Linked DNA regions of Homo sapiens. The protein of the gene in region 3 interacts with the protein of the main gene of each other region in a biochemical or structural test. Each region holds a gene or a part of one and is shown on either strand. Other genes may lie near its edges.

The links.
Region 1: the proteins of ANOS1 (region 3) and FGFR3 form a complex in vitro, tested with the Homo sapiens proteins (one study listed by BioGRID).
Region 2: the proteins of ANOS1 (region 3) and FGFR1 form a complex in vitro, tested with the Homo sapiens proteins (3 studies listed by BioGRID and IntAct, with this or other methods).
Region 4: the proteins of ANOS1 (region 3) and FN1 form a complex in vitro, tested with the Homo sapiens proteins (one study listed by BioGRID).

The regions. Positions count from the first base shown.
Region 1 is NC_000004.12:1,795,497-1,803,333, reverse strand, and holds part of FGFR3 (fibroblast growth factor receptor 3 isoform 1 precursor), read right to left. Parts: intron 4,081-7,837; coding exon 3,811-4,080; intron 3,588-3,810; coding exon 3,522-3,587; intron 1,968-3,521; coding exon 1,798-1,967; intron 1,715-1,797; coding exon 1,591-1,714; intron 1,500-1,590; coding exon 1,309-1,499; intron 421-1,308; coding exon of another isoform or gene 270-420; intron 1-269.
Region 2 is NC_000008.11:38,423,167-38,431,003, reverse strand, and holds part of FGFR1 (fibroblast growth factor receptor 1 isoform 1 precursor), read left to right. Parts: intron 1-1,055; coding exon 1,056-1,322; intron 1,323-2,568; coding exon 2,569-2,658; intron 2,659-2,910; coding exon 2,911-3,083; intron 3,084-4,758; coding exon 4,759-4,882; intron 4,883-6,304; coding exon 6,305-6,495; intron 6,496-7,837. UniProt on the Homo sapiens protein: Tyrosine-protein kinase that acts as a cell-surface receptor for fibroblast growth factors and plays an essential role in the regulation of embryonic development, cell proliferation, differentiation and migration.
Region 3 is NC_000023.11:8,567,582-8,575,418, reverse strand, and holds part of ANOS1 (anosmin-1 isoform 1 precursor), read left to right. Parts: intron 1-4,714; coding exon 4,715-4,920; intron 4,921-7,042; coding exon 7,043-7,187; intron 7,188-7,837. UniProt on the Homo sapiens protein: Has a dual branch-promoting and guidance activity, which may play an important role in the patterning of mitral and tufted cell collaterals to the olfactory cortex. Chemoattractant for fetal olfactory epithelial cells.
Region 4 is NC_000002.12:215,404,566-215,412,402, reverse strand, and holds part of FN1 (fibronectin isoform 1 precursor), read left to right. Parts: intron 1-2,288; coding exon 2,289-2,469; intron 2,470-2,663; coding exon 2,664-2,840; intron 2,841-3,976; coding exon 3,977-4,105; intron 4,106-4,205; coding exon 4,206-4,295; intron 4,296-5,081; coding exon 5,082-5,276; intron 5,277-5,892; coding exon 5,893-6,165; intron 6,166-7,747; coding exon 7,748-7,837. UniProt on the Homo sapiens protein: Fibronectins bind cell surfaces and various compounds including collagen, fibrin, heparin, DNA, and actin. Fibronectins are involved in cell adhesion, cell motility, opsonization, wound healing, and maintenance of cell shape.

The DNA.
Region 1 (7,837 bases), on a different chromosome or scaffold from region 3:
GCTCACAGACGGCACGGAGCCGGCCCGGTGGGCACCGGGCACCTCCTGTGGGGGTCGCAGGCGTGCGGGAAGGGTCGGCGCAGGCCACAGGGCTCGAAGCGGGCGGTCACCGTGGAGGCTGGAGCTGCCAGCCTTGCCGAGGCGGCCCCGAGTGGAGCGCGAGCCGGGGCGGGAGCGAGCAGGGCTGGGCGTGCGGGGCGTGCAGGGCGCGCGGCCAGGGCCTTGGAGCTGGAGCTCTTGTGCCGGCCGGCATGGGACAGAGTCGTTACCTGCTCGGGGCCCGTGAACGCTCAGCCAAAAGGCCTTCTCGGCCACGCCTATGAAATTGGTGGCTCGACAGAGGTACTCGCCCCCGTCCCGCTCCGACACATTGGCCAGGCGGAGGCGCACGTCGGCCTCCACACTCTCACTGATCCAGGACTGCGGGGACAAGAGACCCGGCTCAGGCACGCCCCCGAGGCAGCCCCGCCGGGCACGAGGCAGGATGTGGGAGACCCCCAAGGTACAGATCGAGGCTGGGCTGCGTCAGCCCCAAAGGCTGCCTGGAGGAGGCGTGGAGGCACTTCACGGTGGCTGTGGTTTCACAGGATGCACGTCTCTGCCTCCACCCCAACAACCCAGCCCAGACCCTCAGACAACCTCTGGTCACTGGCCTGCCCTCCCCCGGGCTCTTGCAGAACCTGCACCCTGGACAGGGCCCGAGGCGGCCTCTCTGGGCGGGGTCTGGACTCCACCCTCGCCCTGCGCCTGCTCCCCGCCCCCAAGAGACCGTCTTCTCTCTGAACAGATGTTTCTCTTTGGGCTTTGAGTGTCGCAACCGTCCCAATTCAGTGGCCCCCACCCGGCAGCCATGGGAACAAAGCTAAGGGCTTCAGGAGGCGGGCAGACAGTGAGCTCGGGCCCCACTGCACACAGCTGACGAGAGCCAATCGGCCAGGTCGGGGCTCAGCCACCGCCTCTGAGGCCCAGAGGGGGCCTGGAGGGCTTGGCCACACTGCCCTCCTGTCCTGGGGCACCACTGCTGCCCAAGCCGCACCCACCCCCAAGAAGCCCGTGGGCAGCTCCATGTCAGGGACTTCAGTGGCTGAGGCTGGCCCTCTGCAGACACGGAAACGGGTCCCAACGCAGCTGCCTATGGCCCTGAGGTGTGGGGTGGCTGAGACTTGGCCCCACAAGCACCCCCACAGCTTCTGCCCCCGAAGCTCCAACCCCTAGACCCAAATCCTCACGCAACCCGCAGCCAAGGGGCACCCTTGGGGCCAGCCCAGGAGCCCCAGCGGCGGCACCCACGTGCACACGGTGGCCCACCTTGAGCACGGTAACGTAGGGTGTGCCGTCCGGGCCCACCTTGCTGCCATTCACCTCCACGTGCTTGAGCCACTGGATGTGGGGCTGTGCGTCACTGTACACCTTGCAGTGGAACTCCACGTCGCTGCCCAGCACCGCCGTCTGGTTGGCCGGCAGCCCCGCCTGCAGGATGGGCCGGTGCGGGGAGCGCTCTGTGGGGGCAGATGACGCTCAGGGGCCACCCCCTCCCTCACCACCACCGCCACTGCCGCCCCCACCCCCGCGCCGCCCCAGGGCCCTCACCCAGCACGTCCAGCGTGTACGTCTGCCGGATGCTGCCAAACTTGTTCTCCACGACGCAGGTGTAGTTGCCGCGGTCCGAGGGCACCACGCTTTCCATGACCAGGCTCCACTGCTGATGCCGCAGCTGCACCGGGACGCGGGCGGGTGAGTGAGCGGAGGCAGCAACCACCGCGCCTGCCAGGCCCAGAGCCACCCCGCCGCGCCCACCTTGATGCCTCCAATGCGGTGCTCGCCGCGGAACTCCCTGCCGTTCTTCAGCCAGGAGATGGAGGGAGTGGGGTTGCCAGCGGCTGGGCAGCGGAAGCGGACGGTGTTGGCGGCCGGCACGGCCAGCAGCTTCTTGTCCATCCGCTCGGGCCGTGTCCAGTAAGGGGCCCCTGCGGGCCGAGGTGCGTGTGAAGGCCATGACCCGAGTGGGAGCAGAGGCCCCTCTGAACAACCCCCTTCCCAGAGCTGCCCCTGCCCATCCCCAGCCTCAGTTTCCCGTCCTGTGTAGGAAGAGGGCGGGATGAGGTTCCCAGGAGCCTCCACATCTTGTCCCCTCCCCGGGGCTTTCTCAGAGCTGGGCCGTGTGTCCCCTCCCCTCCCCTCCAGGGTGCTCTGCCCGGACCTGTGAAGTCACAGGGCACAGGGCATTGTCCAGGGGAGCCCACCTGCCCAGAGAGGCGTGCCAGGGCCAGGCCCACCAACGGGGAGACTGAAGACCCAGGGGGCAGGCCCATCTAGTGGACAAGCCAGGACCTGGGAGCAGTTTACCAGGAGAGGAGCCCAGTCGCCTGCAGAGCCAGGAGCCTTGGAGGCAGCTGGGCAGCATGGGCCCACGGAAATCAAGACCCTACACCACCCTCTGCAGAGCTCCAAGTCTGGCGGGCACCCAGAGACGGTGGCACCCTGGAGGCCCTGCCTCCTCCCATCTCGATGTCCAGGGCTCCCACCACCCCTCTCACAGCCCAACTGGTTTTTCTCCTTCCTCAGGGCTGGTGCTGCCTTCCTGCCGGGACTCCAGGCAAGGATGGGCTGGCATTCCCCAGGAGGGAAGCAGCCCTCCCCTCAGTGAGCTCACTGCCAGCCCCCTCCAGGCACACGCCCATCAGGGGCACTGAGGCCCAGCAAGCAGCAGTGTGGACACAGGCTGGAAAGAGGCACCCCACGGTGCTGAGCTCCCTCCCAGGCCTCCTGGAGACCCCCAGGGTGAGTTCCCCCAGCTGTTTCTCTCATGGACTCAGCCTCCCTTCCTCACCTGCTTACCCCACTGGCCCAGGGACCCAGCGCACACACCATCAGTCCGCAAGTCGTAACTGCCCCCCATGTCTGTGCCACGATGACCCTCACCTGCACGCACTCCCCTCAGAGCTCCCTCCAAAACCAGAAGCCCCACCTCCCCACCCTACAACTTGGCAAAGTCCACCTGCCACCGTTCCAGGCCGGGACGCCAGGCATCGTCCCCGACTGCTCTCTCACAGCCGCAGCCCACCCACCAGCCACCCTCCTGCCAGCCACCCTGCCCGCCACTGGTTGTGGCAGGTGCCCCGGCGCCCTCACCCCGGGTCCATCCACCCCACGGCAGCCACCTGAGTGCCCTGCCCTGCTGCGCTAATGTCTGCGGGGTCCACCTCACCTATAGCCAACACCAGAGCCCCACAGGCCAGCCCTGGCCTCCTCCTGCTCCTGGAACCCCCAGGGCCCTGTGCCTCAGTCTCCCCATCAGCAACACGGTGTCCCCTTGCACCCCAGCCCTGCCACCAGGGTGGGGCATCTAGAGCCATGTCAGTGACCCAGCCCCTCCTGTATCCTGAGGGGACCAGACCTTCGGGGTGACCCCAGGGAGGTTGTTCCGGGGCCTTAGTCCCTCAGCTGCCTGTGAAGGGCAGGGCTTGGCGGTGGCAGCGGGCCCCACCCCGGCTGGCCTGAACCCTGGACCCTGCTCCTACCTGTGTCCACACCTGTGTCCTCAGCCTCGTCCTCCCCGTCTTCGTCATCTCCCGAGGATGGAGCGTCTGCAAGGCAGAGATGGCCGCAACCAATGCCCAACCTGCCCCAGGAGGCCCCCAGGTGCCCCTCCCAGATGGGGCAGGGTCCCCCATTTGGGCAGCACTTCCTGGGGGTGCCCTCCTCTCCACCAATGACCAGAGAGACCCCCAGCCGCTCCTGACCCACGCAGGGACTCAGGGAGCCCGGCACTCGGCTCCTTTCTGTAGCTGGCGTGGCCCCAGAGCTCACCTGTCACCCGCACACTGAAGTGGCACAGTACGCGCTGCGTGAGCCGCTGCCGGCAGCTGTAGGCCCCGGAGTCCTCGTGGGAGGCATTCAGCACCTGCAGCCGCTGGGGCCCCACCAGGACACGCTCCGAGGGCACCAGCCCTGTGCCATCCTTGACCCAGACAGTGGGCCCCATGGGACCACCCCCGGGCGGGGGACAGCTCAGCTCCACAGCATCCCCGCTGCCGAAGACCAACTGCTCCTGCTGGCCGGGCTCTGGGCCCGGGACTTCTGTGGGGAAGATGGGCAACCATGAGGCAGGCACCCCCAAACCCGGCACCGTTTACAGACACAGCAGTGGAAGCCTCGGCGGCCCTGAGTGAGGAAGGCTCTGACCCAGATCCAGGGTCCCACCAGACCAGGGGCTGGAAACTGTGTCCCAAAAGGGCCAAAGGTCTCTATCTTCAGCTTTGCCAACCAGTCTGTCCCAAGGACTCCGGTCTGCCTCGGTGTGACAGCCGCCTTCCCCACACAACCTGCAGCCAACCCCACAGCAGTGGCCCCATGATGCTTCACTCATGGACACGGAGAATTCAAATCTCAAAGTGTCACAAAATGTGACTCTTCGTTCTTTTAATTTGTTCAATTGCTTGGAAACATAAAATCCATGCTTGTCTCACAGGCGGCACCACGACGGGCAGGTGCTGCGGGCAAAGGGGACAGGCTGCCCTTTGCTGGCCTCTGACTGAAATGGAGCTCAGAGGGGGTGCCAGGGTTGGCCAGCCAGCCCCCTCGTGGTGCAGATTCACCCCAGGAGGGGTCCGTCCTCAGTAGCCCCCGCACCCCATATGAGCCTGAAAAGCAGTTCAGATGGACAGCCAGGGAACAGAACAGGCGAGAAGGAAGGAGGTGCAGGGTCACGTGGCCGTGTGGACGGTCTGGGGGGCGATGCGCGGGTTCACCGGTCAGAGCACAGGCCGGAGCAGCGCGAGGGGGCCGGGGCGGGGGTGGGGGCTCCTTGGGGTGGGCAAGGTTCTGTATCCTGCAGCTCCTATGGAAGCTCCACACGGCGGTCATGACGGAAAACATACCGAGAAGAGCAAAGTACAAACACGGCGCTGGGTCCGGCCAAGTGGGTCTCACAGGCCGGGGAGTGGGGAGGCCCAGGCGGGCCCTCAAGGGGGCCGGGGGGTGGAGTCCTGCTGCCTGCAGGGGGACTGGGGCCCCCTCACAGAGGACGACCAGGCTGGGGGCAGGAAGCTGTGAGAGCCAGGGCAGGTCAGCAGCCCTGGCCCCTCCCTGGGGGCTGAGAAGCTGGGGTGGGGGCCCACCCACAGGGGCAGATGTGCAGGTGGCCCCTGGGTCCCTCCCCAGTAGCTGCCCAGCTCCCCAGAGCCACCAAAGCCTGTGACCCAAGGACACACCATGGGCAGGGCTGGGGGGACAATCGCCCCTAGGCTTCCCTGCCAGGGCCAGACAATGCATGCAGGCAGGCGTCCCGGGCTTGGGGCCGGGACGGGGGTGGGTGGTCCCCCAGGCAGCCTCCTTCTTCAGACCCAGCTGGGCGGGTTGCGCCATCACTTGTCATTCTGCAGACGCGTGGCCTAGATTCGGGGGCCCAGCTGCCCACTCTGGCCACACCAGTCCCTGGCTGCCCGGCCAGGCCCTCTTCTGCCCAACCCACCTGATCCAGCCACACACGCCTAGTGCCCAGGGTGACCCTGCCAGCCAGAAGGGCCCACACTCATCCCCTGAAGCATCCGAAGGAGCCCTCGCCCCACCGGGACCCACAGCTCAAGGACTGCCCCTGTAGGGACCCCGCAGTCAGGGGGGCTCCTGGCCTGACCTCCAGCCCTCCGGTCCTGGCCAGTGTCTTGTGGGGACCACCCAGAGCTGGGAGCTGCTCGAGGCCCCCCAGAAGGCCGAGAACAGGCTGGTTATGGCAGCCTCAGCTGCAGGCCCTGGCCCAAGGGCAACAGCCGGTTGGTTCCGGTTTGGTCTGAGTGGCGACAACAGGTCAAGCCATCCACACAAGTATTTGCTTCAGCCTGGTCCAGCACGGGGGGACGGGGGACACAGCAGCCCCAGGCCAGCCACACCAGTGGCCATCTGCCCGTGTGTGGTGGGGAGGGTGCAGCCCTGACTGCCCCCCCCACTGCCTGCCTGCTAGGTGCCAGCAGAGGCCAGGGTACCCCAGCAGGGGCTGGGTGGCGAGCACCAGGTGAAGGACAGTGTGACACGGGGCATGAGTGGGTGCTATAAGTTCAGGGTCTGACTCCCACTGGGAAGTCAGCAGTTGGGTGGAGCCCCCATACCCCACCCAGCTGCCAGGCATGGGGAGAGCTATAGCCCCCCAGCAGCCCTAGGAAGGGTTCTTTCTTTCTTGATCCACAAAAGGGAGGCCCCACTGACACCACACAGACACTGGTGCCCAAACACGTTGGAGACAAAACTCCTGCTGTACCCAAGGCGGGGTAGGAGGCAACGCGTCCCACCTCCCACCCTTCTATGGATCCCACAACACGTGCTCCTGCCGGCGCCCCAACCCCACACAGTGCCGACCTCAACTTGGGCTCCACATGCCAACGACAGCCCTCTGCTGTGTCCCAGAGTCTCCACAACTCTGCCACTCACTGGTCCTGTACCTCAGTTTCCCCCACTGTGGCACAAAGTAAAAATCCCACCCCACAGGCCCAGGAGCTCAGGGAGGGCACCAGGCCCTGAAATGGCTGCAGGAGTGAGGGTAGGGGTGAGAGGCGCTCCCTGCCCTGGGTCTCTGGCCCCAAGACTGATGTCCATTAGGCAGGGTGCTGGGGACGGCCAAACTCTGGCCTGGGGAACCTTTCTCCAGGCTCTGGGTCTCTGCAGTGGAGGCCCAGTGCATGTGAGGGAGCATGGCTGAGAGGATGGGGGAGCCTTGCTCCATCATAAGCCCCTCGGGTTGACCCCAGAGAACAAGGATCAAATCCAGACTCGCTTCCGGAGCTGGCTGCCCCAGGGGTTTATTTGGGTTTTGGGGTGAGATGAGGGCCTGGGGTCAGGAAACAACACATTCTGGTTTCGGATGCACATGAAGTTCTCTGCAGCTCTCTGGGGTACAGGAGGTATTGCCAGGTAGGAGCTATAAAATAGCCTAAGAGGAGGGGGCCCCCAAAAGTCCAGCCTCCCTGTCTCCCCACCTGGAGTTTCACAATAAAGTCCGGAAAAAAGGGATCTGGAGGCTGGGCAGGCTAAAGAGGGCTTGCCAGGGTTATCTGGCCTAATCCTTCAAACAGCCTGCCATTATCGGTTCTCTTGGACAGGTAAGGAAACTGAGGTTCGAAGAGGGCACCCGAGCCTGAGCTGGCAGCCTAGAGGTCCAGGCTGACCCCTACCCCACCAAAGGTGGCTCCACTCCTGGCTCATTCACTCCTGAATCACTCAGGTGAGGGCTGCATGCCTCCCTAGATGAGGTGACTTTAGATCCCCGTCCTCCAGGAGACCCCAAGCCCCTGGGCTCCCACTCAAGCTCAGCTGTAACAAGGGGTGCCACAGCCCCAGATCTAGCCCCAAGTGAGACCTGAGGGCTGGGGAGCTGGGGGGTGGGTAACAAGGGGTTCCTAGGCTCACACAAGGACCTGGAGGCCAGGCTCAGCCCAGGTTAATGAACCACCCAGAGGCCCACGCGGCTCAAAGTCCAGCCCTGCAGAGGAGGAGTGGGGGAGGTTGCAGCCAGCACCTTCGGGAAAGGCCCTGCACCCCCAGACCCCTGCTGGGTGGGGTGGGACTGTGGGAGAGCCGACCTTGTGTACCTCCCTGCACCCTGGGGGGTCACTCCAGGTCCCAACCAGGAATACGGCCCCCTGGGGAGATGGGGGCTGTCCTGGCAGGGCCTGGGGTGGCCAGGGCAGTCCAGTGGCCAAAACCTTTCCCACCGCCCTTGACCCCTGCGAGCCAAGGCTCCATAATTTATGTTCCCGGGCAAGCGCCAGCCTAGACCTCAGTCCATTTCACGAGGTCTTTGTATTTTTACTGCCCGGCCCATCTTGTTAAGGAACCGGATTAAGTT
Region 2 (7,837 bases), on a different chromosome or scaffold from region 3:
CTAAAAGGAAATAGAAAGTTCATTTCCCCTCGTGAGTGCAGAGGGGTGTGCTCAGGAGATGGGTAACAGCCCAGGATGGTGAACTCAGGTGTGTCCGGGCCACGGGCCTTCTTGAACGCGTGCGGGAAGAGGCACTGGTCAGGGGAGGGACAGGTGCTCTTGGTGGTATCAGATCTTGTGAGGTGCAGACACCCCGGTGGGTCCAGTGCTCCCACCCAGGGACAGAGAAGGATGGGGCACGGGGAGGGAGAGTGGATGGTGGGGGGCCTGAGGGTGTGCCCAGTCAGAGGGCTGAGGAGAAAGGACCTTTGTGTGCGACAGCTCCTGCTGCCAGAGCAAGTGTGGGTTTTATGGCAGCTGTGGCCTCCCGTCCTAATATAGTCAACAGCTCCAAATCCCCTGCCCTGACACCTGTTAGCGAGAGGTTCCCTGAGCTGACCTCTCCTTGGGCTGCCCCCCCAGCATGTGCATCTGACGCGTCGAGGGCCAGACCCCCACCCTCTCCGAATCACACGCATCCTGGTCAGCCCCCAGTTGACAAATTGCCTTCTCTCGACTTGGGCAGGGGCTGCTGGGGTTTTGAGGGGCGGGGTTTGTTCAGCTGTTGCTAGGGAAGGGTGAGGCTGAGCTATCCCAAAGGAAATGGGGTGTTCCTCTGGCAAGTGGCAATCTTGGCAAAGAACTGAGCATCTGGGGAGGGGGCAACTCCGGACACAAAGAAGTCCTGGGGAGGGCCGACCTTTCCCCTTAGGATGGGGGAAATGAAATGCGCTTAATGCTGCTACAGCTGCTTCCTAACTTTGCCTCTTTCTTCCTTTGACTTTTGGAGGAGTGGGGTGGAAAAGAGATGGGGGTTCCCAGGCAGCCAGCTGTTTTCCCCACTGACCCATGCTCCAATTCCCACTGCCCTGGCTCAGTAGCCTCCAGTAAGTGATGCCCAGGATGGTGCGGCTCCGTGTGGCCAGCGTAATTCCCTTTGTCTCTCCCCTCCTCCCCTCTCCCTGTCTTCCTCTCTCGCCCCTTGGCTTCCCTTCCCGGCCCCGTGGTGGCTGCAGCCCAGCCCTGGGGAGCCCCTGTGGAAGTGGAGTCCTTCCTGGTCCACCCCGGTGACCTGCTGCAGCTTCGCTGTCGGCTGCGGGACGATGTGCAGAGCATCAACTGGCTGCGGGACGGGGTGCAGCTGGCGGAAAGCAACCGCACCCGCATCACAGGGGAGGAGGTGGAGGTGCAGGACTCCGTGCCCGCAGACTCCGGCCTCTATGCTTGCGTAACCAGCAGCCCCTCGGGCAGTGACACCACCTACTTCTCCGTCAATGTTTCAGGTTGGTAGCCAAGCCCTGCCCTTGCCCCTCCCTAGACCCACCCCCTCCAGCCCTCTCTGCCAGTTTCAGAGGAAGGTGAACCTCCTCCCCCTCCGTGATCTGCCCCCACTCTGCTTCAGAAACTGCTGCCCACTAACATTGCTCCCTGCCTGCCGCGTGGCTTGGCTCTCAGAGAGGTGACTAGGTGGGGTGGGCCCCAGGGCCGGAGATCTGGGGCTTCCAGGACACACCTCGGAGGTGATTGCCAGGGCTCTTGGGATGTTAAGACCCTGTGATTTTTTTCCACCACAGCTTGCCCAGATCTCCAGGAGGCTAAGTGGTGCTCGGCCAGCTTCCACTCCATCACTCCCTTGCCATTTGGACTTGGTACTCGGCTTAGTGATTAGAGGCCCTGAACAGGTGGTGGTATCCCTGCTCTGCTGGAGAGGAACCCAGGTGCACCGCAAGGGAGCTGTGCGAGGGCAGCCAGGGAGCCCTGGAGCTCTGTGAACTTGGGAACTTGCCACTCTTAGAATGTGACTTTCACAAAACTAGGAGTTGAGGAAGTGGAGCTGAAATTTTCTTTATGCCATTTATGCACCTCAGGGTGTGGACTTGGCAGCAGATCCCCAAAGGTGATAGGAAGGACTGGAGAAAGATCTGGCATGAACCCTGATGGGTGACCACATGTGTATCAAGCGTGTTCTTACAAGAAATAAATACTTATTGGGGAGAGGTGTTGGCAGCTGCTGGGGTGGTGGGTGCCCTATCTGCTCTGATTAAGGAGGGCAGCCCCCAAACCTTAGTAGACACATGCTAGAAAAATTCTGACTGTGGGGTGTTTAGCCCATCCTTTGGAAATAGCATCTAGCCACAGTGTGTCTAGACCTGCCTGGGTTTCCCTATAGTCAGCCGTCCAAAGAAGAATACAGGTTGCCTGGCTCCAGCACACCCAGGTGGCACCACAAGTTGAGAAAGCGCCTTTGAATGTAGGACGGAATTAAGTTAAATAGGAACAGCTGACCCTGATGGAACCACCCAGTGTGAAGGCTTCCAGGCAGTGGGGGCAGTGCTTCGGGGAAGGAAGCAAACACGCACAGGAACTGTTCTTAAACAGTTTCCATCCCACCAAGAGATCATCACTAAGGGAGCAGTGGGACTGGGATCCCCATGGGGAGGGTGTCCGTGTTCATCTGGAACTGCACTAGCCTTGGTGAAATCTAGGGGTCCCTAGGAGGAACCTCAGTGCCCCTTCTTCTTCCCATAGATGCTCTCCCCTCCTCGGAGGATGATGATGATGATGATGACTCCTCTTCAGAGGAGAAAGAAACAGATAACACCAAACCAAACCGTATGCGTGAGACACTGTTTCCTATCTTACTGCCCTTTGGGTCTGGGCATTGGGTTTAAGAGGGGAGGGGAAGGCTGAAAGGGGAGGAAGAGGAGGGCACATGGGGTCACGGTGCCTGTTCTGCTAAGTGCCAGGCACTGCTCACAGGTGTTGGGCAGATGGGCAAGACACCTCCAGGTCCTGGCCTGGGCCCTGCTCCTGAGCCTGACCAGCTGCTCCTCTCCACCCTGCCTGTCTCTCTTGGCTTTCCCCGGGCAGCCGTAGCTCCATATTGGACATCCCCAGAAAAGATGGAAAAGAAATTGCATGCAGTGCCGGCTGCCAAGACAGTGAAGTTCAAATGCCCTTCCAGTGGGACCCCAAACCCCACACTGCGCTGGTTGAAAAATGGCAAAGAATTCAAACCTGACCACAGAATTGGAGGCTACAAGGTACGTGTGTGTGCATGCGAAAGTTAGAGTAATGGGAACAGGGGAGGCCGAGTTAGGAAGTCCTGATTACATGCTTTTCATTTTTTTAAGTAATACTTTCCACCTATACAGGTTATTCATTAAAATTTTTAAATACAAAAAAATGCAAATAAAGTTTAAACATTTCTTCAGTCTTCTTTCTGTAATATGGTTTTTACATAGTTGATCACATCATGTATGTAATTTCCTTGCCTTGTCATTTGTTAACATGAGTCTTTTCCTGATATATTTCAAGCATGAATATTTGAAACATAATTTTTCATGACTGTATAAGATTCCATTATTTTAAAATCCCATAATTTGGCTGGGCATGGTGGCTCACGCCTAAAATCCTATCACTTTGGGAGGCCGAGGTGGGCGGATTGCCTGAGCTCAGGAGTTCGAGACCAGCCTGGGCAACATGGCGAAACCTCCTCTGTACTAAAAATACAAAAAATTAGCCATGTGTGGTGGCAGGCTCCTGTAATCCCAGCTACTGGGGAGGCTGAAGCAGGAGATTGCTTGAACCCAGGAGACAGAGGTTGCAGTGAGCTGAGATCACGTCATTTCACTCTAGCCTGGGTGACAGAGTGAGACTCTGTCTCCAAAAAACAACAGAAAAAGTCCTATAATTTAATGAACTATTTTGTGATATTAGGTATTTTCTGGTTTTTCACCATAATAAATAATGTTGCAGTGAATCTCTGTCAGCATTTTTTTAAGCGTGCTTCCTTAGGACAGATTGTTACAAGTGAAATTACTAACTTAAAGGGTGTAAGCATTTTTTTTTTTTTTTTAGACGGAGTCTCACTCTGTCACCCAGGCTGGAGTGCAGTGGTGCCATCTTGGCTCACTGCAAGCTCCACCTCCCAGGTTCATGCCATTCTCCTGCCTCAGCCTCCCGAGTACCTGGGATGTGCAGCCACCATTCCCAGCTAATTTTTGTATTTTTAGTAGAGACGGGGTTTCCCCATGTTGGCCAGGCTGGTCTTGAACTCATGACCTCAAGTGATCTGTCCGCCTGGGCCTCCCAAAGAGCTGGGATTACAGGCTTGAGCCACCGCACCCAGCCAGAAATATTTTAAATTAATTCACCATGCACTCACTACATGCAAGACACCATGCTTTAAATGCTGCAAGATAGCGTTCCTGCCCATAAAAATTTTGCAGTCTGATAGGAGGCAAATGTCCATGAGCAGCTACCGTAAAAAGTAGACTGTGATCAGTGCTTTGGTAGGCAGAGAGGAAAGGGTGAGCACAGTTCTGACCAGAGACTGGACTGGAGGAGATGGTTTTTGAAATGAGCTGTCAAGGACAGTGGGGGCTGGATTCTTAGTGTAATAGGAGAGGTGCACAGTTGGGAACATTCTTGGTGTATTTGGGAGTGTTTGCAGAAGGCACATCTGTCCGGATCACGAATGATCTTGAACGTCACAGTGGAGACTTCTGGAGTCTTTACACCCCATCTGCCAGCTTGCAGAGTGTGAACGGGCTGGTAGGGGGGCAATCCACGCCTTGTCCTAGCCAACCCTGCAGCCTGGGGCCCTGTGCCACCAGGCTCTGATATGGAGGGCAGGTGCCACGGGGTGCCGACATTGTCATGGGGCCTGCATTTTCCTCTGGACCCTCAATGTATCCCTTTGGCATTTCCCCTCAGGTCCGTTATGCCACCTGGAGCATCATAATGGACTCTGTGGTGCCCTCTGACAAGGGCAACTACACCTGCATTGTGGAGAATGAGTACGGCAGCATCAACCACACATACCAGCTGGATGTCGTGGGTAAGAGGGCAGAGGCAGCAGGAGGAATGAGTTTAGTGGGAAGAGCCAGGCTTGGAGAACACAGCCGGGGTGTCCAGGTTTCTTAGGGGCAGAGTCAGGATAGCGATTGGCACTTCTTGGCTTTGTCACCTTGAGCAGGTCACTTCTCCCTTTTGAGCCTCACTTTTCTTATCTGTAAAATAGAGTTAAGATCAGACAGTAACACGGTCAAAGCTGGTTGTCACTGTGAAATTGAAGGTGCTGTTCAGAGTCTGTCCTGAAGGAGGCGTTGTTGGAGAGGTGTTAAATGTAGCGTAATAGGAGCTGTCGCTTAATGCTAGCAAGATGCCAGGCTCCTTAAATACCTGCCCTGTAATGCTCATGGCACACCTGCAAGGTGGGCAGTATTAGTCTAGCCCTGCACAGGAGCACAGGCGCATAGGCTCAGAGAGGTCAGACACCTTGCTAATGCAGAACTGCACACCTGTGCCAACTTCAGGGCATCACAGGAGACTCTGGGAAGAACATTGAGCCTCTTGGAGCTATTACCGCAACCTTTTCCTTCTAGGAGTTCTGAAACTCACTCCCTAGAGATCATTGGGTACAGAATCTCTCAGCCAGTGTTCTTCTTGATTATGATGATATGGTCTAAGAAGGAGATTGTGGCCAGGAGCAGTGGCTTATGAGCTCCAGGTGGCATGATGGGATTACTCACGCCTGTGATCCCATCACTTTAGGAGGCCAAGGCTGGAGGATTGCTTGAGGCCAGGAGTGTGAGACCAGCCTGGGCAACACAGTGAGACCCTGTCTCTATAAAAAAATTTAAAAATTAGCCTAGTGCAGTGTCATGTACTTGTAGTACCAGCTGAGTTAACTGAGGCTACTGAGGTGGGAAGATCACTTGAGCCCAGGAATTCGAAGCTGCAGTGAGCTATGATGACACCCTTGTGCTCCAGCATGGGTGACAGAGTGAGACCCTGCCTTTAAAAAAAAAAAAGGTAAAAAGGAGATTCTGATCCAAGAGGTTGGGGTAAGATCTGAGATTCCGCGTTTCTAACAAGCTCCTAGGGGATGCTGGTAGCACTGCTCGTGGACCACACTTTGAATAGCAGGAGTCAAAGTGACTCTGGTTTTTTAAGGAGGAGCAGGTTGTGCTGAGGTCTGGGGGTGCAACTGAATTAGAAGGTTCTCCATTAAAGCATGAGCGACTTACTGTGACTGTAAATATGATGACTGCCTTGGGGAGGAGGATCCTGATGGCTTAGGGCCTGAAGAGAGGGTGTCCCTTTCCCCAGCTCTGTTTTGAGAGGCTTGGGCTCAGCAGAAGTGCTGGGAGGTTTACAACCCATCACTGGGAAAGCCAAGTGGGGCGCAGGTGAGCCCACCCCTCTTTAGCCATGGCAAGGTCCCCATGACAAGTGCCTCCTCTCCCATCTTCCACAGAGCGGTCCCCTCACCGGCCCATCCTGCAAGCAGGGTTGCCCGCCAACAAAACAGTGGCCCTGGGTAGCAACGTGGAGTTCATGTGTAAGGTGTACAGTGACCCGCAGCCGCACATCCAGTGGCTAAAGCACATCGAGGTGAATGGGAGCAAGATTGGCCCAGACAACCTGCCTTATGTCCAGATCTTGAAGGTAATCATGGCACCAGTCTTCGTGGGCCAGTCTACTGGGAAGGAGACCACTGTCTCGGGGGCTCAAGTTCCTGTGGGCAGGCTCAGTTGCCCCCGAATGGGATCATTCCTCACGCTTCAGGCACACACACTCCATCTCAGTAGGGATCTAGCCACATCCCCCAGGACTAGTAACAGAGGTCACAAAGTGGAGGTGAGCTGGGAACAGAGGGCTGCAGGGATGGGTGGTGCTGGTCTGTAATAAGCTTTGAGAGCAACGTCACTGGGGCTTTGGGGTCAGCTACACAAGGAAGGCATTTGGACCCCTGCCTTTTCATTGCCCGAAACCAGAGCCTTTCCACCAAGCGTTTCCCAGTCTTAGCCCTGTGTCCTGAGTTACGTACGATCTTTCTGGCAAATGGGGTGCATGATAAGAGCATCTCTTACGAAGAGTTGGAAAAACAAATGCCATATATAAATTCTAAGCCATATGAGGACGAGGAGTAATGGCATTTTCTTCCTTTTTCCTCTCACTCCCAGACATTCATTGTCCCTGAATGCTCCATTAATCCAGGGAAGGTAATTGCCTAAATCTCCAGTGGATCTCGCAACAGGAAGGAACCAGAAGCTGGGAAAGTTGTTTACCTCTTTGTCCCAGAGTTAGACCTCATCCTCCCCTAGCTTAGCTGTCTCAGAGATATACTGGCCCTCCCTTCTCTTCTCTTTGCTGCTGGTGCTAAAACTGCTCTGTAGGTCATTGGCCACTGTCTCCACTCACAACCCCTGCTCCAGTCCTGGAGGGAGTGGGTTAAACACAAATAGAACATTCCATTTGAAGCAGTGATTCTTTTTTTTTTTTTTTTTTTTTAATCAAATGCTTTGGACTTTTGAAGTCCACTTGTTCTGTACTTGTAAAAGGGAAAGAAGGCCGGGCGCAGTGGCTCACGCCTGTAATCCCAGCACTTTAGATCACTTGAGGTCAGGAGTTTGAGACCAGCCCGGCCAACATGGTGAAACCCCATCTCTACTAAAAATACAAAAATTAGCTGTGCATAGTGGTTGGCACCTGTAGTCCCAGCTACTCAGGAGGCTGAGGCAAGCTAACTGCTTGAACCCAGAAGGCAGAGGTTGCAGTGAGCTGAGATCACGCCACTGCACTCCAGCCTGGGTGACAGAGTGAGTGAGACTCTGCGTTAAAAAAAAAAAAAAAAAAAAAAACTAAAAGGGAAAGGTAATAAATCTCACTTAACATCTCCCTTCGCTCCCTGGGCCTGCCTGAAAGTTACACGGGAGCAACGTGCGTGGCCACATCTCAGCTTTGCCCAACTGACTGGTGTGTCGTTGGTTTGTTCCAGCATTCGGGG
Region 3 (7,837 bases):
GCAATATTCATGTGACTACTTATTTTCAGCATATAGACATTCAGGTGCATTGCCGAGAACACGAACGGCTGTTATTTTCACACATTTTAATTCTTCTCTTGCCTTGAAGTGACGATTCAGTTGTAAACTAGGTTCCCTCCCAGAAAGGTTGGTAACTACCTTTTGTAGGTTAAGGATTGATTCCTACACCAGAGGAAGAGGTGTTGCTTTAATTATTTTATTTCAAACTGGGAAGAACACTCCTTTGATTTTGCAATTCACTTTAGGATCTTGTGATCTAGCAATTCTGATTGACAGAGTTTGAACCTGAAACTGAAATATCACATTACAAATCAAAGCTAACGTTTAGAAGCCTGTCCTTCATTTATTCATTCAGCAATTGCTTACTGAGCACATACTGTGTGCTAGGTGCTCTTCTGGACTCTGGAGATACAGATGTGAAAAAACAAGCAAACATTCCTCCTCTCAGGGAGCTTTCATTATCGTGAGTAGAAGCAGACAGCAAACAAGGTACCTAATAAGTCAGTTTGTGTATTAGTCACGGTTCTCTAGAGGGACAGAACTAATAGGATAGATGTATATATAAAGGGGAGTTTACTAAGGAGTATTGACTCACACAATCCCAAGATGAGTTCCCACAATAGGCCATCTGCAAGCTAAGGAGCAAGGAAGCCAGTCCAAGTCCCCAAAACTCCAAAGTAGGGAAGCCGACAGTGCAGCCCTTCGGTCTGTGTTCAAAGGTCTGAGTCCCAAAGCTGAAGAACTTGGAGTCTGATGTTCGAGGGCAGGAAGCATCCAGCACAGGAGGAAGATGTAGGCCAGAAGACTAAACCAGTCTAAAATTTCCACATTCTTCTCCCTGCTTTTATTCTGGCTGCACTGGCAGCTGATTGGAATGGTGCCCACCCAGATTGAGGGAGGGTCTGCCTTTTCCAGTCCAGTGACTCAAATGTTAATCTCCATGGCAGCACCCTCACAGACATACCCAAGATCAACACTTTGCATCCTTCAATCCAATCAAGTTGACACTCAATATTTACCATAACAGTTAGTAATAAGGGCTTGGAGAATAATAAAGCAAGGCATAATCATGGTGACTTTTTTTTTTTTTTTTTGGTAAATGGAGCAAAGCATATGTAGCTATTTTAAATAGGGTCACCACCTGCAGCAGGAAAGGAGCCAGCCGTGGAGACATCAGGGAAAGCGTTTAGGCAAAGGGAGAGGAAAAGCCTCAGTAGCATCGCGGTTTTCCTCTCCAAGAAACAGCATGGGAACCAGTGTGGCTGGGCTGAGGGGTGGAGGTGATAAAATGAAAGGTGCTCTGGGAGGTAACTGAGGCACGGGTTGCAAGGCATTCAGGAGACTCCTGGGTTTTTACCCTAAGTAAGGAGATTCTGTGCACAGGAGTGACATGGTCTGGCAGTATAGAATCATCAGACTGCTGTATTCAGAAAAACCTCTAGGGAGGCAGTGGAGAGCCCTTGGCACTTGGCCCAGGGCATTGGAAGTGGTAAAAGGCAGTTAAATTCCTGTTACACTTTGAAGGTAGTGCTAACACAATTTGCTCAAGAGATATGAGTGGAAAATAAATGTATGACTTCAAGGGTTGGGGCCAGAGCAACTGGAAAGAGCAATTCCCATGTACTGAGATGGGGGTGTCAGTGGTGGGCTGTGTGTGGTAGGATATGTGTTGGTGGTGGGCTGTGCATAGGGATCATGATTTTTCTTTGGGACACATTAGTTTTGAAATGCCTCTGAGACCTCCAAGTGGAGCTACTGGAAGGTATTTTTTGAGTATTGATATTTGAATGATTGGATCTGCATTCAGGAGCATAGTCTATGTTAAAGATATCAATTTGAAAGTTATCAGCACAAAGATTTTTTTAAAACTGTGACACCTGATGAGATCCCTAGAGAGTGAGTGTAGATGAGAAGAGAGAGGCCCCTGAATTCAGATGCAGAACACTCTCCTGTCTAGAGATTATGAGATGTTAAGGATCATGGAGCATGGGGCTGAAAAATAGCTTCTGTTGAAACTGAATGAAAATCCAGTAGAGACCAGGCGTGGTGGCTCACATCTGTAATCCCAGCACTTTGGGAGGCCAAGGCGAGTGGATCACCTGATGTCAGGAGTTCAAGACCAGCCTGGCAAACATGGTGAAACCCCATCTCTACAAAAATACAAAAATTAGCCAGGCATGATGGCAGGTGCCTGTAATGCCAGCTACTTGGGAGGCCAAGGTGGGAGAATCTCTTAAACTAGGCAGGCGGGCAGAGGTTGCAGCGAGCCAAGATCACACCATTGCACTCCAGCCTGGGTGACAGGGTGAGACTCTGTCTCAAAAAAAAAAAAAAAAAAAAATCCAGTAGAGTAGTGTCCTGAACACCAAATGAAGCCTGCATTTCTTAGAGAAGGAAGTGATCAGCAGTGTTGTGAATATTGATGACTGGGGGAGTCCTCACATGGCTCTGCCAGACCTCCATATTGGGGTGCTTCCCATTCCAATAACGACAGGAAAAATACATTTCCTCCTTACATATGTGATGTTCAGACCTCATAGGAGCCACCTGATGCAGTACTTTTGACCTGCAGGTCATCTACCTCATATTACCTGTGTGTTTCATATAAGATATACATAATCCTGGGTCCCACCTGCACTCAGGGAATCAGCATATCCCAGTATAAGTCTTGGACATTCCAGAGATTCCTGATGTTGATTGAGAATGACTTGACTCAGAAATACCATTTGATCCAGCAATCTCATTACTGGTTATATACCCAAAGGAATATAAATCATTCTATTATAAAGATGCATGCACACTTGTGTACATTGCAGCACTATTCACAATAGCAAAGACATGGAATGAACCCAAATGCCCATCAACAGTAGACTGGATAAAGAAAATGTGGAACATATCCACCATGGAATACTATGCAGCCATGAAAAGGAACAAGATCATGTCCTTTGCAGGGACATGGATGGAGCTGGAAGCCATTATCCTCAGCAAACTAATGCAGGAACAGAAAACGAAAGACTGCATGCTCTCAGTTCTAAGTGGGAGCCGAAGGATGAGAACACATGGACACATGGAGGGGAGCAACACACACCAGGGCCTGCTTGGGGGAGGTGGGGAGGTAGAGCATCAGGAAGAACAGCTAAATGGTTGCTGGGCTTAATACCTAGGTGATGGGTTGATTTGTGCAGCAAACCACCATGGCACATATTTACCTCTGTAACAAGCCTGCACATGTACCCTGGAACTGAAAATAAAAGTTAATTTAAAAAAAAAATGACTTGACTAGCAGTATCACATAATATGCTTTCAATTAGCCTCTTACCTAAAAAATACTATGAAGCTTTCTTATTTTAGAAAATAAAGGAACTAACCTAACTAAATGTCCAGACATGATATATCATAGAGGAAAGCAAGAAATTTCAAAAAATAAGTTATGTTTCCATCATTCCAAAACCACAAATGACTGAGAATAAAAACAAGGATTTTTTTTCTCCAGTCTTCTTCATGTATATCAAGTTAGATATTACTTTTTTGAGCCTCCAACACAGATGGTGCTATAATTAGAATTATTGACAGCATCTTCCCGTGATGGCATCTTGAAATGAAACCCTCTGTAAATCACTGGTGGTGAGCAGCATCTCCACTTGCTCAATTTGTAATAGAAAATGAAGTAAAGACCCTCCAGCTTTGGTATATTTAATCTTCTTCATATATGTATTTTCAGTGGAGATTTGTGAGGTGGTAATTCCAGCACCTCATCTTTCTCTTGACAGCTGAGAAGGTTTTTGTTAATAAGACAAACCAGAAATGGTACAATCACAAAAATGAATGCTATCCATAAGTCATCCAGTGTGCAATGTGGATAAAAAATGGTGCAGGTTTTTATATTTTTTTTCTTTTCTGATTTCCCTTTATTGTTCTTAACTGATGCAAGAATTGCTAGCTACAGGGCACGAAGATGAAAACAATTGCTTTTATGAGCTGAATTTCTTTTTCTTTTCAGAGTGTTAAAAGGTGATTCTTTGTTGCTTACCTATTTAATGTCAATTCACCCACATTGAATTGTACTATATTTTACTAAAATATGTCAATTTCAGCACAGTAAAAATTTGGCTGGGTTGCCGTGGTATGGAAATGCCTAAAACGATCCTTCTGTATTACAAATTTGGACCAAACAAATTTATCTTACTGTTTAATACTCTATCTTTTAATTTGAGGCTTAACAAGGAGATCTTACTTAACTGCTTGTTTTCAGCTTTGCCTTTCTTTTACTTTTTTTTTTTTTTTTTGAGACAGTGTCTCATTCTCTTGCGCAGGCTGGTATGCAGTGGTGCTAATCGCGGCTCACTGCAGCCTTGACCTCCCGGGTTCAAGCGCTCCTTCCGCCTCAGCTTCCTGAGTAGCTGGGACCACAGGCATGCACCACCCTGCCCAGCTAATTTTTTAAATTTTGTAGAGACAGGGTTTCACTATGTTGCCCAGGCTGTCCTCAAACTCCTGAGCTCAAGATATCTGCCAGCCTCAGCCTTGCAAAGTGCTGGGATTGCAGACATGAGCCACCATGCCCCTCCACCCCCGTTTTCAGCTTTTCTATCTATAAAAAGCAATGCTTCACGTGTTGACCATGTAGTCATTACATGTCCAAAGATGTTAGTTTTGTGGAGTCATATGATGTGTCTTTGTACTGGGATTTCAGATCCATCTGCCCCACCAGCACCGGCTAACCTCCGGCTGGCCAACTCCACCGTCAACAGTGATGGGAGTGTGACCGTCACTATAGTTTGGGATCTCCCCGAGGAGCCGGACATCCCTGTGCATCATTACAAGGTCTTTTGGAGCTGGATGGTCAGCAGTAAGTCTCTTGTCCCAACAAAGAAGAAGCGGAGAAAGACTACGGATGGGGTGAGTGGGAACTGGAGGAAGGATTGTTATTCCCACAGAGGGTATTTCAACTCAAGGCAACTGGCCTGAAAAGAGGCCTCTGCTAAACTGAGAGATGCCATGGATGCAGGAAAGCTTCCCTCCCATTCATTTCTACCGAGGAAGTTCACAGAATGCAGGGGCATGCCGGCTGTTTTGCCTTTTATATTTTAGGCAGAAGCATTTGCATTTAGACCATTGACCTACTCCTATCTAAATGTCAGTCAGAACTCTGGAAATCAAAGGAACAGTTTAAATGATCCCCATCTTACCTGTCTGGCCATAGAAAATGATATTATGCAAAATGTACTTTACTTTTAAGTTTTTTTTTTTTTTTTTTGAGAGAGAGAGATCCTTGTAAATGGAAGAGTGGATGTTCATGGCTTTTCTGTTGCGAAGTGTTTCCGTCTGTAATCTAATCACTGAGCAGTAACAGCTTAGGAAGGCCACGTCTCACAATATGTTCTTCTCATTGATTAAAAGGATCTGGAGTGGTTTATCCGTCAGATGCCAAGAAATAAAATCTTCATTGAACCATTTTCTGCAATGAGATTCTTATGATAACAAGCATCTTGTATTATTTGAAATGCTTACTGCATAAAAATAGTTATTTGGATTCCTTTTAGTATACATTCCTTTATCTTGTCATAAAATTTACATAAATACCTTTTCCTATCACTTATAAAGTTGAATTCCATAAATAAATGTTTAGAAATGAAAAGATAGCAAGGCTAAAGATTTCAATATCTGTGCTCTTCAGAATTATAAAACATGCCTCAAAAAGTTGGTATCATTGATATTTAGCCATTATACTATTTTAACTTTATTTATTTATTTTTGAGAGGGAGTCTCGCTCTGTCTCTCAGACTGGAGTGCAGTGGAGCAATCTCGGCTCACTGCAAGCTCCGCCTCCCGGGTTCACGCCATTCTCCTGCCTCAGCCTCCCGAGTAGCTGGGACTACAGGCGCCCGCCACCACACCCAGCTAATTTTTTGTATTTTTAGTAGAGACAGGGTTTCACCATGTTAGCCAGGATGATCTCTATCTCCTGACCTCGTGATCCGCCCACCTTGGCCTCCCAAAGTGCTGGGATTACAGGCGTGAGCCACCACGCCCAGCCCCACTTTATTTTTATGAAATTTTATGACAGTTCCATTTTTTATATTGAAGGATTTTGCTACAAATGATAATGGTAGTGCACACTTATTGCATGAGCTGGAAGAGCTGAAATTGGGGAATCACTTAGGAATCTAGAGCAAAAAGTGACATGATGAAATGCTGACAGGTCCCACCCTCCAGCCCCCTGCCCAATACATTATGACAGAAAATAATGAAGCACCTTGAAGCATTTTGTCAAGTTAATTTTTCTTTTGTATAGCTTTTGGTGGAAATTTGCTCCTAGAAAATTTAGAACAGATATCAAAGAATTGCAATTAGTGCCAATTCATAATTTTTCCATGTATGTGGCAACATAGATCTCTGTTACTTTATTATAAACAGCTCCCTTTCCTTCGAGAGGTGGTGTCTCAGAGTGGCGAGGGCTCAGAATGATTTATTTCCATGGTATCTGAGACCAATAATTGGTTTAGAAACAGTATTTCAAAATACATTTGGCCTTTCTATGAAGTTTATTTTTATTTTTTATTTCATTATATTTTTTGAGACAGGGTCTCACTCTGTTGCCCAGGCTGGAGTGCAGTGGTGCGATCACAGCTCACTGCAGCCACAACCTCCTGGGTTCAATCTTCTCACCTCAGCCTCCTGAGTAGCTGGAACTACAAGTGCACACCACCATGCCCAATTAATTTTTTTTGTAGAGACAGTCTTGCTATGTTGCCCAGGTAGTCTCAAACTCCTGGGCTCAAGCGATCCTCCCACCTCGGGCTCCCAAAGTGCTGGGATTGCAGTCAGGAGCCACCGCACCTGGCCTGAAGTTTATTTTGATCAGTAGTAAAACTGAATTTTCAGATCCCAAAGATATAGAAAAGTTGGTAAAAGAAATCAGAAGTTGGCATGCTTCATAATGACACACGAGATTTTGCAATGAAGATGAGAGACGTGGAAGGTTTGTAACGCATTTTGGGTATATTCTCTTAATTTCTAGTTTCAAAATTCTGTGATCCTGGAGAAACTCCAGCCAGACTGTGACTATGTTGTGGAATTGCAAGCCATAACGTACTGGGGACAGACACGGCTGAAGAGTGCAAAGGTGTCCCTTCACTTCACATCGACACATGCAACCAACAACAGTAAGTGACTGTGTCATGTTTTTCAAGATGATTGTGACATGATGGGCGCCATATCACAACAAGGCACAATGGAGGGAGAGTGAGTTTTTGATTTGGAATAATTATATGGCAAATCTTCTTACCCACATGCATGTGACTAAAGTATTTAAACTACGACATACGAAACAGTTTGACTTTTGAATTCTTTCTTATGGTTTTTATCTATTGTAGGTGCAATTTTGGTGTTGTAATGGAAATTTAAGAAAACTTATTGTGTCTCATTTTAACAGATTGACTGTTTTTATGTTTACATGACGTGCACATATGCATTCTGCATACTTGTTTTTCAGGAGATTACGTACAGTTAAACTGTTATAACTTGATGTTATTTCTGCTTCCACTGTTTCTGTAATTGTTGTTGTTGTTGTTTTGTTTTGTTTTGTTTTGTTTGGTATTTTTGAGACAGAGTCTAGCTCTGTCACCCAGGCTGGAGTGCAATGGCGTGATCTCAGCTCACTGCAACCTTTGCCTCCCGGGTTCAAGCGGTTCTCCTGCCTCAGTCTCCTGAGTAGCTGGGATTACAGGCGTGCACCACCATGCCTGGCTAATTTCTGTATTTTTAGTAGAGACAGGGTTTCACCATGTTGGCCAGGCTGGCCTCGAGCTCCTGA
Region 4 (7,837 bases), on a different chromosome or scaffold from region 3:
AAATATGACTTATTGTTGACAAATGAAACAAATAGAGGTGTAAGCATGTTGTCTACATGGAGGCAAGACCAGAATAATAGAAAATGGAAACAGATTCCCTTAAAGAGGGGAATCGTGTCTTTCTCATTGGCTCAATGTAGTCTCCGTAGAGTCTAGAATGCTTCAGCACCTGGCACACTGCTTAACAAATGGTGAATGAAAAAAAAAAAAAGAAAAGTCATTCTTTTTCTTCTTTCACCCTATGTCCATAATCTGGCCATTTGCAGAACTTGATGTCCAGTGATCGAAATCAACAGCATCAGTGCATCCAATATCTTCTAGTCTCTCATCTTCTTATTACATCATTAATTTTATTTACTTTAAAATTAAGGATATCCAAAGTATTATGTGAGACCATTGCAATGGGAGACTTAAAAGTGGTATAAAATGTACTTTGGGCCAGGCGCAGTGGCTCACGCCTGTAATCCCAGCACTTTGGGAGGCCAAGGTGGGCGGATCACGAGGTCAAGAGATCGAGAGCATCCTGGCCAACATGGTGAAACCCCGTCTCTATTAAAAATACAAAAAAATTAGCTGGGCATGGTGGCGCATACCTGTAATCCCAGCTACTCGGGAAGCTGAGGCAGGAGAATCGCTTGAAACCAGAAGGCGGAGGTTGCAGTGAGCCAGGATCACGCCACTGCACTCCAGCCTGGGCAACAAGAGCGAAACTCCATCTCAAAAAAAAAAAAAAAAAAGTACATTGAATTGGAAAGTCTTCAAAAAGCAGCAGTGATGAATTTTTTGAGATTTTTAACAATTACAAAAATTCAGGGTTTTTTCTAATGGATGCCACCTGAGACTTTATTTTCTGTTATTTTCTTGTAATAACTAACCAAACAAGCTCATGTTGAAAAATGATTACTAAATTTGAGCTAATTGCAATGACTGGTTTCAAAATTTTCCACAGTGTATTTGAGTTAAAATTTCACTGTGAAGAGTACTACGATCACTCTCGCTTATTCCAAAAATATAAATGGACACTTGAGTATTTGAATTATTGAGGAAATGGTTGACTGGGTAATTTTTAAAAATCACTGGGCACAAAAAATATATTTTGACTTATATTAGTTTAGAGTATTTACACTTGAAAGAGTCTCATCTTTTCTGAAGGGTGTTTCTTTCATACACATTTTATTGCACTGAGTTTTGTGACCCATGGCATATTAATGAAGCTGAACAGGATGTGAAATATAAACTGGAAGCAAAAGATTAAATAAACCAAAATTGCATTTTTTCTGTAGTCTTGTCCAAAATTGGGTAACCACTTCTGATGGGGTAGCTCATATCCAAGAATGAGTCACAAAACCAGACTCGTTGAACCTGGTATATGATGAGTCACAAAGCAACATTCTGCCTTTGTTTTTTCAGGACAAGAAACTTGAATTGTATCCCACTGAGTTAAAAGATAAAATATATGGCATTGGCATTTCTGTACTTCAGAGAGGAATATATCTGTTTGTGGTAGGAATAAAAAATAAGTGAGAGAGGCAAAGCTTAGGTTCATCATATTATGTTACTGATATAACACAATTAACTTGGTAAAAGTGAAGGTGTGGGTGGGCGTGGTGGCTCACGCTTGTAATCCCAGCACTTTGGGAGTCCGAGGCGGGTGGATCACCTGAGGTCGGGAGTTCGAGACCAGCCTGACCAACATGGAGAAACCCCATCTCTACTAAAAATATAAAATTAGCCAGGCATGGTGGCACACGCCTCTAATCCCAGCTACTCGGGAGGCTGAGGCAGGAGAAGCGCTTAAACCTGGGAGGTGGAGTTTGCAGTGAGCTGAGATTGAGCCACTGCACTCTAGCCTGGGCAACAAGAGCAAAACTCTGTCTCAAAAAAAAAAAAAAAAAGTGAAGGTGCCCAGTGTCTGCAACTATGTCACCCCGGGCATATCACATATCACTCTGTTTTTCCGTCTGTAAAACGGGAGCAACAATGCCATTGCCTTATCATCAGAAGGATATGGAGACTAAATGGGAGAATGTAGGTAAACAGCACAGAGTATGGGTATCAGTAAGTAAACTGCAGCAGTTTGTTGATGTTAACAATAGTTAGCATTATATCTAACTATATCTAACGATATAACCATTGGGAATCCAGTTTTCCATGATTTTCCTCTAGAATGGAGCTGCCTAAGTCCTGCTTAAGTCATTTTTCTTTGAAGATTACTGAACATCATCTTCAAATGTTCATCCTTGTAAACACGTGTGTGTGTGTGTGTGTGTGTTAATTTAAATTTTCAGAAAAATTCTGTAGGCCGTTGGAAGGAAGCTACCATACCAGGCCACTTAAACTCCTACACCATCAAAGGCCTGAAGCCTGGTGTGGTATACGAGGGCCAGCTCATCAGCATCCAGCAGTACGGCCACCAAGAAGTGACTCGCTTTGACTTCACCACCACCAGCACCAGCACACCTGTGACCAGTATGTACACAACCACCCTCATGCCTCCTACCCCCGAGGTTCCTAGAGCTAGGCTCTCCTGAGGCAATGCTTTCCTTCTCAATTCATATTCTTCCAGGAGGGGCACCAACGTTTTTTAAAATGATGTTGGCGACGAGGACGGTAAATTTTCTAGATGACTGAAGGCTGACTTTCCCCTTTCTGTGACTCTCTAGGCAACACCGTGACAGGAGAGACGACTCCCTTTTCTCCTCTTGTGGCCACTTCTGAATCTGTGACCGAAATCACAGCCAGTAGCTTTGTGGTCTCCTGGGTCTCAGCTTCCGACACCGTGTCGGGATTCCGGGTGGAATATGAGCTGAGTGAGGAGGGAGATGAGCCACAGTACCTGGGTAAGCTCAATATGTCGCTCAAGACAGGTTCAGGGCAGCTGCTGGAAAACTCTCCTTGTGGGGGTGGGTGGCCTCTAGGCAGGTGGTATCTGTGGTTTGGAACTGGTTGACAGCTCAGACTGAACAAACCACCCTCTGGCATGAGGAAGGGAAGGACTGACTCTTTCTAAGAAGTGGCCGGGTTTTTCCCAAGCCACTGTCACATGTTCCTGGTCCCTGATGCCAGCTGCATCATGCGCCTACCTGTGCACAAGTTCCTACAGCAAAAGCTGTGTTCTTGGTGGAAGTAATTACCAGGACTGCAGCTGACAATGTGAGCACAGTACGGTCACTCATACTTTTCAAATTGTTATGGTGAGGGGCCTTTAAAAAACTTCATTGGCGCACTGAAGTGTGTGCCATCGTAAGCACTGAGTTCAGTGAATTTGAATTCTTATAAAGTGAACACACCACAAGACCAGCACCCAGATCAAGGAAAAGAATATCTCTCTACCCTCACCCCATCATCTTCCGCCAATAATCACTACCCTGACTCTTACTGCAGAGAGCTATTTTTAAAAATTTGGCATTCGATTACAAAAATTATACGTCTTTAGAAAAAAAGTTGGAAAAATGAAAGGAAGAAGGAGGAGGAGGAGAAAGGAGAAAGACAAGAAGTGGTGTTTTCCCATAGTACATTAATAATCACAGATTAGGTGGGTGCGGTGGCTAACTCCTATAATCTCAGCACTTCGGGAAGCTGAGGCTGGTGGATCACTTGAGGCCAGGAGTTCGAGATCAGCCTGGCCAACATGGTGAACCTCCATCTCTAATAAAAATGCAAAAAAAATAGCCGGGTGTGGTGGTGTGCACCTGTAATCCCAGCTACTCGGGAGGCCGAGGCAGAAGAATTGCTTGAACCGGAAAGGTAGAGGATGCAGTGAGCTGAAATTGTGCCACTGCACTCCAGCCTGGGCAACACAGCAAGACTCTGTGTAAAAATAATAATAATAATCACTGATTAGCTATTAGCACATTACCTTCTAGTCGCTTTTCCCTATGAATATATAATTCTTAAAATATCCTTCTTATAAGCTGTAGAGTCATTTGAGGGACTAGTTTGCTCTGATTAGTTACCTTTTCTTTTCATTTCAAAGATCTTCCAAGCACAGCCACTTCTGTGAACATCCCTGACCTGCTTCCTGGCCGAAAATACATTGTAAATGTCTATCAGATATCTGAGGATGGGGAGCAGAGTTTGATCCTGTCTACTTCACAAACAACAGGTACATGTGTGCTACATAGTGTTAAAAGAATCTTTTTCTGTAAAACACAGGCCTGTAGTAGCACTTCCTGACTGTTTGCCCCACTTTCTTTCTTTCTTAGCGCCTGATGCCCCTCCTGACACGACTGTGGACCAAGTTGATGACACCTCAATTGTTGTTCGCTGGAGCAGACCCCAGGCTCCCATCACAGGTCAGCTAAGCGTCCCCCTCTTTGGCTGCTATGTTAATCTTAATGACATCAGCAGGGAGGGCGCAGATTCTGACTGCGGACCTGCATATCACTTTAAATCTCCAATATAATTTATGGGAGAGGGGTTTGTGTGTGTGTGTGTGTGTGTGTGTGGCGGGGGTGGGGGAGTTATTTTCTATGGCACATTTCCCCTTGAAACCATTTCACCAACTCCCTTATACACACACACCACAACATACACACAACCTGTAAAGCCAGCTCATTGGCTTATTAAAGCAAGTGTTCCCAGGGTTGAAGAGGTGTAATTTCCTGAAAACGTTGCTCTAAGATTTATCCTTAAGGAGAAAGCTGAGCTGTCGTCTTAGCTCATTAGGTGATTCAACTGCCTCATCACTGAAGTTCCAAAAAGACACACACAGTGCTAGACAACTCTGCTTAGGCTGGTTCATTAATTGCTTCCCTCGTCTGGAGCTCAAAGAGGAAAAATCAGCTTAACATGAATATTTTCACCTAATGGCATCTCTAATTGACATTTATTAAGGATGTCAGGTCTTCAAGGATGACATTTATTATTAAAAAGGTTCGCATGACTGTTCTTATTTTATCTTCGTGCTGAATAGTCATTATTAGAAGAAGTGGCAATATTCAAAGAGTCAAAAAGTATCACTGGCTCTTCACTAATCAAGCAAGATGCTAAGGGATATTAGAAAAGGGAGGATTTATGGTGTTTCTAAGCCTCTGTCTCAAAGAAAACAGTGCATCTTACTTTTGCTCATGAATCTGCAGGGTACAGAATAGTCTATTCGCCATCAGTAGAAGGTAGCAGCACAGAACTCAACCTTCCTGAAACTGCAAACTCCGTCACCCTCAGTGACTTGCAACCTGGTGTTCAGTATAACATCACTATCTATGCTGTGGAAGAAAATCAAGAAAGTACACCTGTTGTCATTCAACAAGAAACCACTGGCACCCCACGCTCAGGTAACTTTTTTAAGAAGACACTTCCTATGTTATCTTATCAGGATTGTTCCTGAAGGAGGGTTGTTTTGTCTCTGTCAACAGTCCTCTCATTCAAGAAATCTTATATATTAGTTTTTCCCTAAACTTCTGATATTTAGCTGAAATGTCATAAGTAACTTATCAAAGCTGGCTACTGGCCTTTCTGATTAAAAACTGACACCATAACGTCCATCTACAAATTTTCCCCTAGAAGCTTAAGGGTCATTTCATTTTTGATTCTTAAGTATTATAAAATGATTCAGTAAAACAAAAACTGTTACATTATTTTCTGCAGTTATTTCAAAGGCTTTTTCTAAAAAATTTTTTAGTATCTTTTCTTATAACCCTCTCCCCCCACCACCATATGACACTTCATATGCTGGTAACTCACTTATTACCTATTTTAGATAAAAGGTTCAAATGTCATAATTTAAGCACTATGACTGGACCATGAAAATGTGATCTGATTAAGAGACAAAACTTAGCAAAACTCTCGAATGAGAGGCTCAATGAACTGCCTAACATATCCAAGAAACTGGCTTCTTAAAAGTAATCTTCAGCAGAGAATGTGAATGACCAGTTGACTCTTGTCTGTCAGATACAGTGCCCTCTCCCAGGGACCTGCAGTTTGTGGAAGTGACAGACGTGAAGGTCACCATCATGTGGACACCGCCTGAGAGTGCAGTGACCGGCTACCGTGTGGATGTGATCCCCGTCAACCTGCCTGGCGAGCACGGGCAGAGGCTGCCCATCAGCAGGAACACCTTTGCAGAAGTCACCGGGCTGTCCCCTGGGGTCACCTATTACTTCAAAGTCTTTGCAGTGAGCCATGGGAGGGAGAGCAAGCCTCTGACTGCTCAACAGACAACCAGTATGTCTTCTCCTATCTCTATCTCCCCTCCAAATTCTCCACCCTCACTTGCAGCCTGTGAGAAAGTGCAGTAAACCATTCACTCAGAGGTGTATGGCTTAGAGAGAGGGAAATACCCAGCCGGCAAGGGAATGCATAGTGAACACAAAGCACATTAAACTTGAAAACAAAACTCAGACAAGCTCCATGGATGCTAAGTGGTAACCCATTTCTAAAATACATGTACCAGCTGAAGGGTACTAAGAGGGGAGAACTGAAGAGAATCTAATTTGAGTGCATTTTTCGTGTAACTAAATATATCTAGATCAAAGTTAAAATGCAGGATCATAACACTTAGAGTAGAATTCATTTAACAATAGCAATTGTCAAGTGTCTAGTATTACTAGCCACCAGCTTATCTGCTCAGTTTTTACAAGCATTATTCTCATATTTACTCTTTGTTTTGACCTTAGGAAGGAAGGTCTTATTATTATTATTTTATTTATTTATTTTTTTGAGATGGAGTCTCGCTCTGTCGCCAGGGCTGGAGTACAGTGGCACCATCTCAGCTCACTGGAACCTCTACCACCTGGGTTCAAGCAATTCTCCTGCCTCAGCCTCCCGAGTAGCTGGGACTACAGGCGTGTGCCACCATGCCCTGCTAATTTTTGTGTTTTTAGTAGAAATGGGTTTCGCTGTGTTGGCCAAGCTGGTCTGAAACTCCTGACCTCAAGTGATCCACCCACTTTGGCCTCCCAAAGTGCTGGGATTACAGGCGTGAGCCATCGTGCCCAGCCGGAAGGTCTTACTAGTATCCGTATTGAATACTTAAAGAAACTGAGGCTTTAAAAAAGTTCTGCAACTTGTAGGGTCACAGAGATAGGAAGGGATAGAGCTGGCTCTATAACCTATGTCCGAAGCCCATGCTCTCAATTATTATACTCGACTGCCTCTTAAAGATTTCCTCTATTTGAAAGGTAATTTAAATTTCGGTGGGAAAACTGCTGGTTATTATTCTCAAGAATAAACTCCACAACTTATGTGATTCTGATAGTGCAAACTCACCAGTATCCTACCATGAATCTGAGGATACGTTATCATTACTGTAATTACTGTCTAATCTGAACCATGTGAAAATAACTTTTATTTCTCTAGCAAAGGGCTATTCACAGAATATTGCTTTTGACCCATAGAGAGCTTCTTCTTGCTGTCATTTTAGGAGGCATATCCCTTTTTCCTTAATCTGTTTGGCTCAGAGCTAACTGTGAACTTCAGAAGTGTTTGTTTTGCCTTTTTAAAAATACCATTGCTTTAATGTAACTATAATTTCTGAGACTGATGCGAAAGTCTTGCTGGAAAATTAGACTTCCCAAAGGATCACAGTCAAGCAAAATGGTTCCACAATTTCTCATGACTGGCAGAGTTTTGGCAAAGTTTTGTGTAGCACTCAATCTCTTACTGGCTCAGTTTTTCCAGGGTTTTGACTTTCACATAGTTACAACCTTGAGGAGAGAAAACTTAGACATTCAATCAAGTTTCAGGACTTGAGTTATGATCATTACTGATCTAAATATTTCTTGGCATGTTTCATCTTTTTTCCTAGAACTGGATGCTCCCACTAACCTCCAGTTTGTCAATGAAACTGATTCTACTGTCCTGGTGAGATGGACTCCACCTCGGGCCCAGATAACAG